Linked DNA regions of Homo sapiens: region 1 is linked to region 2. The links come from fine-mapping of genetic effects on gene expression. A gene starts in region 2. The other region holds a variant in brackets. All regions are shown on one strand. Distances are between the middles of the regions.

Region 1 (5,388 bases), 230 kb after region 2:
CTAGAAATTGAGATGAAAGTAGTACTATTAAAATATAATTTTCAAAAGGGTACAATCATAAGTCTCATGAAAATATAAAATAATCACATGTCAAAAATATTATTATTATTATTATTATTATTATTATTTTGAGATGGAGTCTTGCTTTGTCGCCAGGCTGGAGTGCAGTGGTGTGATCTCAGCTCACTGCAAACTCCACCTCCCGGGTTCAAGTCATTCTCCTGCCTCAGCCTCCCAAGTAGCTGGGATTACAGGTGTGTGCCGCCACACCCAGCTAATTTTTGTATTTTTTTTTAGTAGAGACGAGGTTTCACCATGTTGGCCAGGATGGTCTTCATCTCTTGACCTCGTGATCTGCCCACCTCAGCCCCCCCAAGTGCTGGGATTACAGGTGTGAGCCACCGTGCCTGGCCAAAAATTTTATTTAACTCACAAATTATTGAGGAAGCCAATGTGATGTTAAAACTAGTTCAAATGAGAATTTGATTTAGAATAAAGTATATATTTTCTACCAGACAAAACCATTTGCAGTGCCATGAACAGAAAAATACATATATTATTATGGACAAGAAACATCTGTATCACCACCAGACCTCTACAGGGAAACTTCTATCTCTATGGAGTTGCAAAACAGACTAGCAAAGACCATCAAAGGCTCCTAATTCCATAGAACAAGACCACCCCTGGAAATTTGCTAGAAAATGCCAGCAGTTCGTTGAAAAGACAACCAGTAATCTCTTTTGCCTATTTCAAAATGTTTCCAACAGTACCCATCTCCCAACAATGTCATAATGAGTTGTATATGTAAAATGCATAAAGCATGTAAGTGTAATGTTCACTTATTATTGCTATATTAAGGTGGTGGTAATGGAAATGGAGAGAAGTAAATGAGTTTATATATATTTTCAAGGGAGAATTTAGAGAATTCGGCAATCAGTTGAAAGTGAGATGTGAAGGAAATTGAGGGGTCAAGAATAACTCCTGATTTTTTACTTGAGCAATTAGGTAGCCATTAAAATCCTTTGCTGTGGTGGAGAAGATTGGAAGACGATAGGGTTACTGAAGGGAGAAATCAGGAGTTCCATTATGGACATTTTAAGTTGGAGATTGAAGCTGCCTTTGAAACTTAAAAGCAAAAATGTCAAGAAGGAAAAAATAGCAATGTGAAGTAGTTAAGAGCACAAAACCTTACTAGTTGTGTAACTTATGCTTCAGTTTCCTCATCGGTCTATTAAATGGTAATAATAATAGTTTTATCTGATAATGTTCTTGTTCAGATTTAATAACTTTTATTTATAAAGCACTTAGAGTAGTGCCTGGCACATAAGAAACACTAAATAAGTTTTTGATAAATACATTAATTAAATTAATGTTTACTTTTTTCAGAGAAGAAAGTTCTAGAATAGAGATTAAATTCTTAGAAGCTTCATGTACACTGATGGTATTTGAAACTAGGAATCATTGATGAACACATTGGAAGATAGCACAAAGCCAAGTCCTGAGGCACTGCAATATTTTAATTTTTTTTTTGAGACAGAGTCTTGCTCTGTCACCTAGGCTGGAGTGCAGTGGCATGATGATCTCGGCTCACTGCAACCTCCACCTCCTGAGTTCAAGTGATTCTCCTGCCTCAGTCTCCCAAGTAGCTTGGGCTTGCAGGTGTATGCCACCATGCCTGGCTAATTTTTTGTATTTTTAGTAGAGATGAGGTTTCACCATGTTGGCCAGGCTGGTCTTGAACTCCCGACCTCAAGTGATCTGCCAGCCTCGGCCTCCCAAAGTACTGGAATTACAAAAGTAAGCCACCATGCCTGGACTGTGCCACTGCACTCAGCCAATATTTTGAATTTGAGAATAGAAGGACCTAGAAAAGGAGACTGAGAAGGAAGTAACCAGAGAAGAAAACCAAGAGAGTTTGGTGTCATGTAATTCAAGAGGAAGAAGTATTTCAAGAAGAAGTACTTGCAAGCAATGGTCAATTATTTTGAATGCCATTGGAAATGAGACAGAATGAGGATTAGATTTGTTAAGAATAGCAGACAGTAAGGCCTGTGTTCTTAGAACCTGATACCAATCTTCCCCCTGGCCTTTTTCTTACTGTTAAAGAAAAGCAGCCTCCTGATGGTCAGTGGGACCCTCCGTTAGTAAGACTCCTTATAATGTCTTGTCTAGAACCATATCAGAGAAAAGAGAAGGCAGAACTTCAAGATGACTTCAACAAAGTGCTCAAACATCAAGATCCCAGGCTTTGAAAGAGCCAGTAGTCTCTGGATGAATTGGAACTTTCAGAGAACTCAGCCCCTGCAACATTTTCCTCTAGCATAAAGTCTCTTTGAAAGGAAAATGTGCTCTTTAATGCAGTCAGCATTTTGTTTTTTAACCCAACTTCCATCACTGAGCATTTTCTGCAAGAAAGACATTCAGGCATTCTTGCAGAGAGGCCAGCTGCCTCTCAACCCAAAAGAGCGTCA[T/C]TGTCATGAGAAAAAGTCTGTTTGTTACTTGGAAAATGCCTGTAAATATAGCTTTTCCATGTGTTTTGCTGGGTTTTTTACTTTTTTTTTTTTTTTTTTTTGAGAGACTGGGTCTTTCTTTGTAGCCCAGGCTAGAGTGCGGTGGCACAATCAGAGCTCACTGTAACCTTGAACTCCTGGGTGCAAGAGATCCTCCCACCTTAGCCTTCCTGGTCACTGGGACTACAGGTGTGTGCTACCAGACTCAGCTAACTTATTATAATTATTATTGGTAGACATGGGGTCTTGCTATATTGCCCAGGCTGGTCTCAAACTCTTGGCCTCAAGTGATCTTCCTGCCTTGGCCTCCAAAAATGCTGGGATTACAAGTGTGAGCCATAGTGCCTGGCCACTTTAATATGTTTTTTAAATTAAGTTCTTCTGTCAAATTATTACTGGTTAGCAATATTAGACAGGGACACTCAATCTTTTTCTTTTCAAGTAGTTGTATTGGTGGCTGCTTCAAAATTATCATTTGTTTTATTTTAATTTCCAGGATCATTATATTTTTGATTATTCTCCTGGGGCACCTTACAGTGCTGAAGATGCCTCATAGCCTAGGCTTGACACTTGAGGATTTGAGAAATCTATGAAAAGAAGTGGTGCTGTCAGATGTTTTGAGGAGTGATGTCCTAGAACCTTTGAAAAATTTTGCTTAGAGACCTCAATATGAGTTGCATAACTAGCATGATTTATTTGCAGTTCCAGAGAATTGTAAACAACAGCAGTTGAGAAATATTTTCATAATTCCACATTCAGATTAAATATCCTTGAGTAAAGATATTTCCTAATAAGTTAGATTCTCATTTATGTGGAATGATTTAGGCGTGGTTCTAAGTAAATTTAGAGGGATATTTTGGATAAGTATTATCTCAAAACTTTAATGCTCCAGCTATATTTTAAGAATGCCTTAATATTATAGATTTTACAAGTAATTTTAAAATTCCTAAAGTGATTCAATTGAAGAGTTTCCCTTCCATTATAGCATTCCAAATGGTGTTTGCTTACTTATTTTAGAGGGTTTATTTAAAACTTTTTTTTGACATCATTGAGAGGCATTAAATAACTAAAGAGTTTTTACACGAGATCTTCTCATCTCATGTAAAAATGGGAAGTAGATAAGAGTAGAAATACAAAGAAGGTGTTTCCTTTTCTCTCTTCCAAGTTTCTTTCTCATCCAGTAGTAATTTTTTCCCTATTTATCCAAAAGCCTCTTCAGATGCCAAAATGTGCAGCTTAGGTTTAGTTAACTGCACTTTATCCTAAGGTTTTTACTCCATTAATGTCTCAAGGATTGCCCAGAATCAGGGGAAGGATCAACTTTTCAAAGTTTAAAAAATATATATAAGAATGAAGATTGGGTTAAAAAATGATGAGGCAATATGGAATTACATATTTTACCAGTAAAGTATGTAAATTTTTTGGTCCTAAATAACATATTTATGGAAAAGACTTGATTCAGAGTAGAATTACTTATGACATATTTTCTTTTTCCAATATACTATTTTCCAGATCCCTCTGTGGCCACTTGTTAATGATAAGATTTTTAAAAGGGAAAATCCATGATTCTCATGTAAATATAAAATGAACATCTGACAAAGATTTAACCTACCTCATTAACCAATGAGGGAACCAATAAGATGTTACAGCCAATTCAAAGGAAGTTTAAAAACCCTATTTATTTAGGCAAATATGAATGCCCAAATGAATTTACAAATAGATGCAAAATTGGTCTAGCTACAGGGCAACAATCAACTGCATTCCACTAGACACAGTTAATCTGTATTTCTCTGGGCAGGAATCATTTGCACTATCAATTTCTTGCCACTTAGAGGGTGGTAAAATATAATAGCTCAAAGTCAATGAAAGGCTAAGACAACCTAGGAAGAATGCACTTAACAGAGTTATCCAGTAATCAGTAATCTTTTGGGTTCTTTTTTTTTTTTTTTTTTTTTTGAGACAGAGTCTCACTCTGTCACCCAGCAGGCTGGAATACAGTAGCAAGATCTCAGCTCACTGCAACCTCCACCTCCCGGGTTCAAGCAATTCTCCTGCCTCAGCCTCCTGAATAGCTGGGATCACAGGCTCACACCACCACACCTGGCCAATTTCTGTATTTTTAGTAGAGACAGGGTTTCGCCATGTTGGCCAGGTTGGTCTCAAACTCCTGACTTCAGGCGATCCGCCCACCTCAGCCTCCCAAAGTGCTGAGATTACAGGCATGAGCCACTGTGCCCGATTTTAAACTCTAATTTTTCTCACATATTATTCAGTTTATTCCCTTCTCTTTTCTCACCCTACTGTCATGCCACCACTCACATACACAAACATACACCAAATCAAACAGGTAAAGAGAAATCCACAACCTCTATTGGCTCATGGCTTGAAATGTAATAAGATTGAAAACCTATACCTAAATTGAGTATTTTTAATGAGACTTCCTGCATGTTTCAATTTGCATTTTTAAATTAGGGCATGAAACTAGTGATAGCATCAAAATAAGACACCTATAAAGCTGTTTTTATTTTTAATAATCCCAATGATTTTTAAAACAAACATATATGAGAAAGGAAGAGAGAGGAAAGTAATAGGATAAAAGGAAAAGTTAATTTTCACATTGTATTACTCCATTTTCACATTGCTGAAAAGACATCTCTGAGACTGGGCAATTTACAAAAGAAAGAGGTTTAATTGGACTTACAGTTCCATGTGGCTGGGGAGGCCTCACAATCATGGTGGAAGGCAAGGAGGAGCAAGTCACATCTTACATGGATAGCGGCAGGCAAAAAAGAGAGCTCGTGCAGAGAAACTCCCACTTTTAAAACCATCAGATCTCATGAGACACATTCACTGTCATGAGAACAGCACAGGAAAGACC
Region 2 (5,388 bases):
ATATAATGCATATATATGAATATGAGATGAGGGTGGATTTAGATTCGGTAAACCGTGGCTCAATGGCCAGTTCTAGCCAGCAAAGCTTTAGTCAAGTCACTTAACTTCTCTGAGCCTCAGTTTCCACGTACATAAAATGGGGTGATTACTTAATTTCAAAAAGTAGTCACAAAGGTCAAATGAGATCATAAATGTAAAATCACTTTGTAAACCATAAAGATGGCATGTACATTTTGGCCATCATCAAAATTAGTTCATGACCAAAACTTTTCCCAGTCACCTTAACCCAACTTGATTTTGTTCTCCCTTTTCTGAAGTTATAGTAAATTTGTAATTTCACCTGTACTGTGTAGCTCTGGATGTGCAATTGCTTTTCCTAGTTTCTCTGGGTATTCCCAAGAGGAAAGAAAATGCTGTGAGGAATCAGAAGCATGAGACAGTGTGGTGGGCATCCTCCAGGCATTCAACAGGTGATTGAGGGCTTAACTTTAAAATAGTATATTATTCGGTGACTTCATTGAGATGACCATCTTGCTGTACATTAGCATGCCCATTAAAACTTCAAGGCAGAAATTTCTGACTCAAAATACCTAGGCAGTATTTATTTGCAAAGCAGAAAAGAATCTAAACTAGCATGTAAGTGGTTCCCAGTTATTTTCTGACCATGCTGATTATTTTTCTGTTCCTCTACAAATAGTATCTCATCATTAGCTTTGTTGCTACTTTTCTTTCTCCCATTACCTATTCTTCCCTTTGGATCTGCTTAATGAGCAGGGTTTATGTGTGAAGAGGGAGGAGGTGGTATTAGGTAAAATGTTCCATTAATAGAACTAGCTGAAACTCTTCAGTTAATGACTGTGATAGGAGGGAAAAAAATAAACCCTTTAGCAGAAAGCTCTGGTGTGTAACAGAGAGACACATGTAACATAGCTTTATGAATGAAAGTTTATTTCAATCAATCACCTTTCTTTAATGTGATGAGGATTTCAGACAAAAACAATAGTGGAAAGACAAAGTTAAGCATTTTTACATCTACTTGTGAATACGCTTTAGCTTATGAGCATTAGCTAGTTTTTGAGAGATTTGTAAAACAAATCTTTCTAAAAGGGAAAAGCATATTTCAAGAATGGGCTCTCTTTGTTATGGATTTGTACTGTCCATTTTTCTAGGTCCACATACTTAATATTGAGAACAAAGGATAATCTTTGTATGACCTTGACTTTCCTAACAGCATGAAAATAGGATTTTTAAAGTTTCTCTCTCTTTAATTGATATACCATATGAAGTAGGTAACCTAAAGTTGAACAACCTGCTTTTCTTCACCTTTTTGAAAAGCAACGCAGCAGGTATGTACATAGGCAGACCTGCCTGTATTCACATGCCCATTATGGCTTGATCAGGTTTTCCATATTCGTGTGTTTCATACCTCTTGTCAGTATTTTTTAATAATGAAAGGAAAGAACATTAATTCTAAATGTCTTGTACCTCCACTGCATATATTTCTGGGCTATCAGGAGATCTGAAAAGGGAAAACGTCCTGATGACACACCTATGGCAATGTAAGGCCAGGGCTGCTCTTTTATTCTTTCAAAACTCAATGATTTCCTTTGCAGATAAGGGGAAATACATCCTTGTTTGACATTTGACACTTTTCTAAAACTGTAATAAAACCTTCCTCTAGTAGAGTCAAATCTCCCTTGCTGGTGGATTAAGCAGCTTCAGAAGCTTCCTGACCTTCTCGTTGCTGTTGCTGGCCTTGTCGTCATTTCACTGCTCATTAGCACTTCCTTCAGGGCTGGACTGGCCTCCAAGGTCATCCCATCCAACCCTCTTGCAATAGTGGATGGAAAAATGAGGTAAAACTCAGTTCAGCCTTTTCTGCATTATAACAGCTCTGATAAAGGACGTGGGTGAGGTGCGGAGGAAGCTGAAACTTGGTTAAAAGAAGGTTTGGGGATTAACTGAGGATTTAATTCATCCTTTCTTTCTCTCCCGTGGCTAAAATAGATAGTTGAGAGTTGGCAGTGCATCAAAACCAGGCTGCTCCTCAACCCCAAATTTCAGCCCCACTCATCCTGGAGTCTTTGTTGAGGGTTTCTTTTTAAACTGGGGGATCTAAGTTTCTAATTGTGCCTTTACAATTAGCAAATCTTAAATGCCTTCAATTGTCACTTTACAGAGAAGCAACTTGCTTTGTTTTTTTCCCCCCAAATTAAGTCCTTAATAACACAAAATAACTTATGCCACTGTTTAGGCTTAGTGAGGAACCTTCAGAAAATGTATAGAGTATTTATTTTGCAAGTCAAGAGAGAAAGTAAAGAGGAACTTTATGGAGGCGAAATAAAACAGTTGTACAGAACACATTTACAGGGCACATTAAGTCGGTTTTTGTCTATGGTTCTTTCCCTTTATGGCATATGTTATATATTGACAGGGATTAAGTTTCTCTCCTGAATGGAACAATACACAGTCACAGGGAGCTACTGTACTTTACAAAGCAACAGACATCAGCACAGGCAAATGGCAAATAGAAATGCATCTCACAAAGAACTAACCAGGTCCATGGGAAGCACAGTGCTTGGCTTCATCTTTTGCAATTCTGCATCTTTTGCATTTCCCTTCTCGCTCTGCTGCTCGCTCGCCTTTCTTTTTCGTCCTTTTCCCCCTTTTTTGCTCGCACCGTTACACTTTCTCTGTCCTCCTGGCTTTGTTATTCAGCATGTCTGATTAGCAGGAGCCTGATTGGCTGGCTGCCTGCTCCGAGAGAGATTCCATTCAGCTTACCCCCCACCCATCCACCCACCCACCCCTCGGTCAGGAAATGTGAGAGGGGCTGATGGAAGCTGATAGGCAGGACTGGAGTGTTAGCACCAGTACTGGATGTGACAGCAGGCAGAGGAGCACTTAGCAGCTTATTCAGTGTCCGATTCTGATTCCGGCAAGGATCCAAGCATGGAATGCTGCCGTCGGGCAACTCCTGGCACACTGCTCCTCTTTCTGGCTTTCCTGCTCCTGGTAAATGCCTTTTCATTTCAATGCATTGCTATTGCCATTGAGTCTGGGTGCTGTTGGGGGTGTGTGTGTGTATGTGTGTTTGTGTGTGTGTGTGTGTCTTTATCTTAAAACTCCAGGTAAAATAATTTACACGATTACAAAGAGAGAATACTCCTTCTAGAACTTTTAACCTCAACTTCCCAAGCAAGATAAAGTCTGCAAGACTTTCTGGAATTAGTTACTGCTATACAGTAATACTGATACTGAGACATGAACTTTGGGACATACTGCATGGAGTTTGGGAGCTGAGGACTGTATATATGGTGGTGTGTATGCTTGGAATTTGGATAACAGACATCCTGAAATTAAACTCACTCACTGTGGTGTTCCTGGAATTTTTTGATGGATAGGCTTTGCAGAGCTTGCCCGTACCGCCTTTAATGAATTACTTTCCATCTATGCACATGTACTATGGAACCAGGTAAAGAGGGGAATGAGAGCCTCTTTGCAGCCAACCCAGATTATGGCTCTTAATTACTGCAAGTCATTTATGGATAGAAGTTAATGCTAGGATTTATGAATTGAGGATTATGGCCTTTGATCTCAAATTTACTTTTAAAGAAGAAAAAGGAATGGTGACTTTTAGTACGGCTGATTGCCACAGTCATAGTGATAAGATGCTCTGCTCTTGAACGTCAGTACACATTGCATTTTTGACTCGAAGTAAATGTTCCGTTGTGACTCATACTTGGTTTTATGGGCAGAAAATGAACATTTACTGTCCAAAATAAATCTACACTCAAAATATTAATAGCAATGCACATTTTTTAAACCAGAGTGTTCTGGGCAGGCAGCTTAGTAAACCTCATCTGAAGGTTTGATTCCAAAATTTGCACACACTGATCCAAACAAATGTGATTGTAGTTTTTCCTGTCACATTTATAACATGCCAGAACTTCCTCAGAAGGTAACAAGGCAGGAAGAGAACAAGGTAAAAATGTAGCAAATGAATAGGTTGCATTGATTCCTTGATGGGGAAGGAATGTTTGTTCTGATTATATTCTGACAAATCTGATCTGCGCTATAATTTTGAAGTAGGGAAGAAAGCCATTTGGTACAAACTGAAAAAGTCCAGGAGATTCATCAAATAGAGTAATCAGACAGTGATTCAATATTTTATACATTCCCACTTCTTAATGATTTGCATCATTGTAGCTAAGAAATTATAATGCTGCATTGCAAGTGCTATAAATATAGAAATAAATTTTTAATTTTTCATAGAAATTTAAAGGTAAACTACATTTCAAGCATGAATGAACTATAAGTTTTAGCTGTTCTGAAAAATACAAAGAACAGAATGTTTAGGTATGCTTTATGACTTGTGGAGCAAGCGATTTATGAAAGGTGTCTCATTTTTTCCATATGGGATGTGTTACTTGTATACACCATTAGTTTGTCTCATCTTTCCTTCTTTGTGATTTTTTTAAGTGTGTGTTATTTTCCCATTATATTGCATCATAAAGCAAATTACCAGTATACATTACTTTTTTGATATTTTCATATGGAAGTATGATCTCATTATACTTTAGTAAAACTTTCCCATTCAGGAATAGATTGTTTTGCTATCCATTTGGTAAACGCATTATATCCCTCTGTGATATCTTGAATATTCATATATGTATTAGAGCATATAATTTGACTTATGTGGAATGAAAAGGTATGTATGCTTATTTCAGAAGGACTTAAAACATATCATATTTAAATTACAATAATTGTATTATAAAGATAAAATTAAAACAAACCTAGGTTTGTTTTATGCCTGCATTTAAATTAAGTGGAAATCTGAGAGTTATGCTACAAAAGGAAGAACTGACTGATGTTTACATACATCCCTTTGCCAAGCAATAACAGCATTAGTAATAGCTGTCATGTATTTTGTGTCTGAATGTGGCTAGTTGTTTGAAAATCATTACAATAAATCCTTACAATAATCATACAGATAAGACATTTTAAACCCGTTTTTTCAGGCAATGAAATAAGCTTGCATTTGAACCCAAAGGTCAAATAATGGAGAGAATAGAACATGTTTGCTTCGTATGGTGGTTGTAAATATTTAAGAACAATGAAAACAGTGGTGCAGGTTGGTCTGTACCCTTTGTTGCAGATATTTAGGCTTTCTGCATCATCTTGATCATTAAAGATATGTACAATATCATGAGCACTTGTTAAACTTGCTCATTAACTGCCCCCTTTAGCATTAAATTTAATTATTGGCTTAAGAGATTGTGACCTTTAGCCTGTTGTGTACTTGATTTAGAACTAGAAGTGTGGCATCATCAGCTCAACCTTCAAACTTGATAGAGAAATTGAATTGAGGGGCTTGTTTTTCCTATA

What was found. PIP is the estimated chance that this variant, and not a neighbour inherited with it, causes the effect.
Region 1: its variant is the best candidate, but not a certain one, in a credible set for the expression of ADAMTSL1 in tibial nerve (GTEx, PIP 0.73).

What each region holds. Positions count from the first base shown.
Region 1 is chr9:18,696,769-18,702,156 of GRCh38, forward strand. The region is part of intron 13 of ADAMTSL1 (ADAMTS like 1); the gene reads left to right. Among named protein-coding and RNA genes, the nearest start is that of MIR3152, 130 kb to the left of the region's middle. The variant T/C (reference allele first, on the strand shown) is at 2,472.
Region 2 is chr9:18,471,281-18,476,668 of GRCh38, forward strand. ADAMTSL1 (ADAMTS like 1) reads left to right here and starts at 2,873. Exons shown (of 29, transcript NM_001040272.6): 1 at 2,873-3,015. The coding sequence starts at 2,953.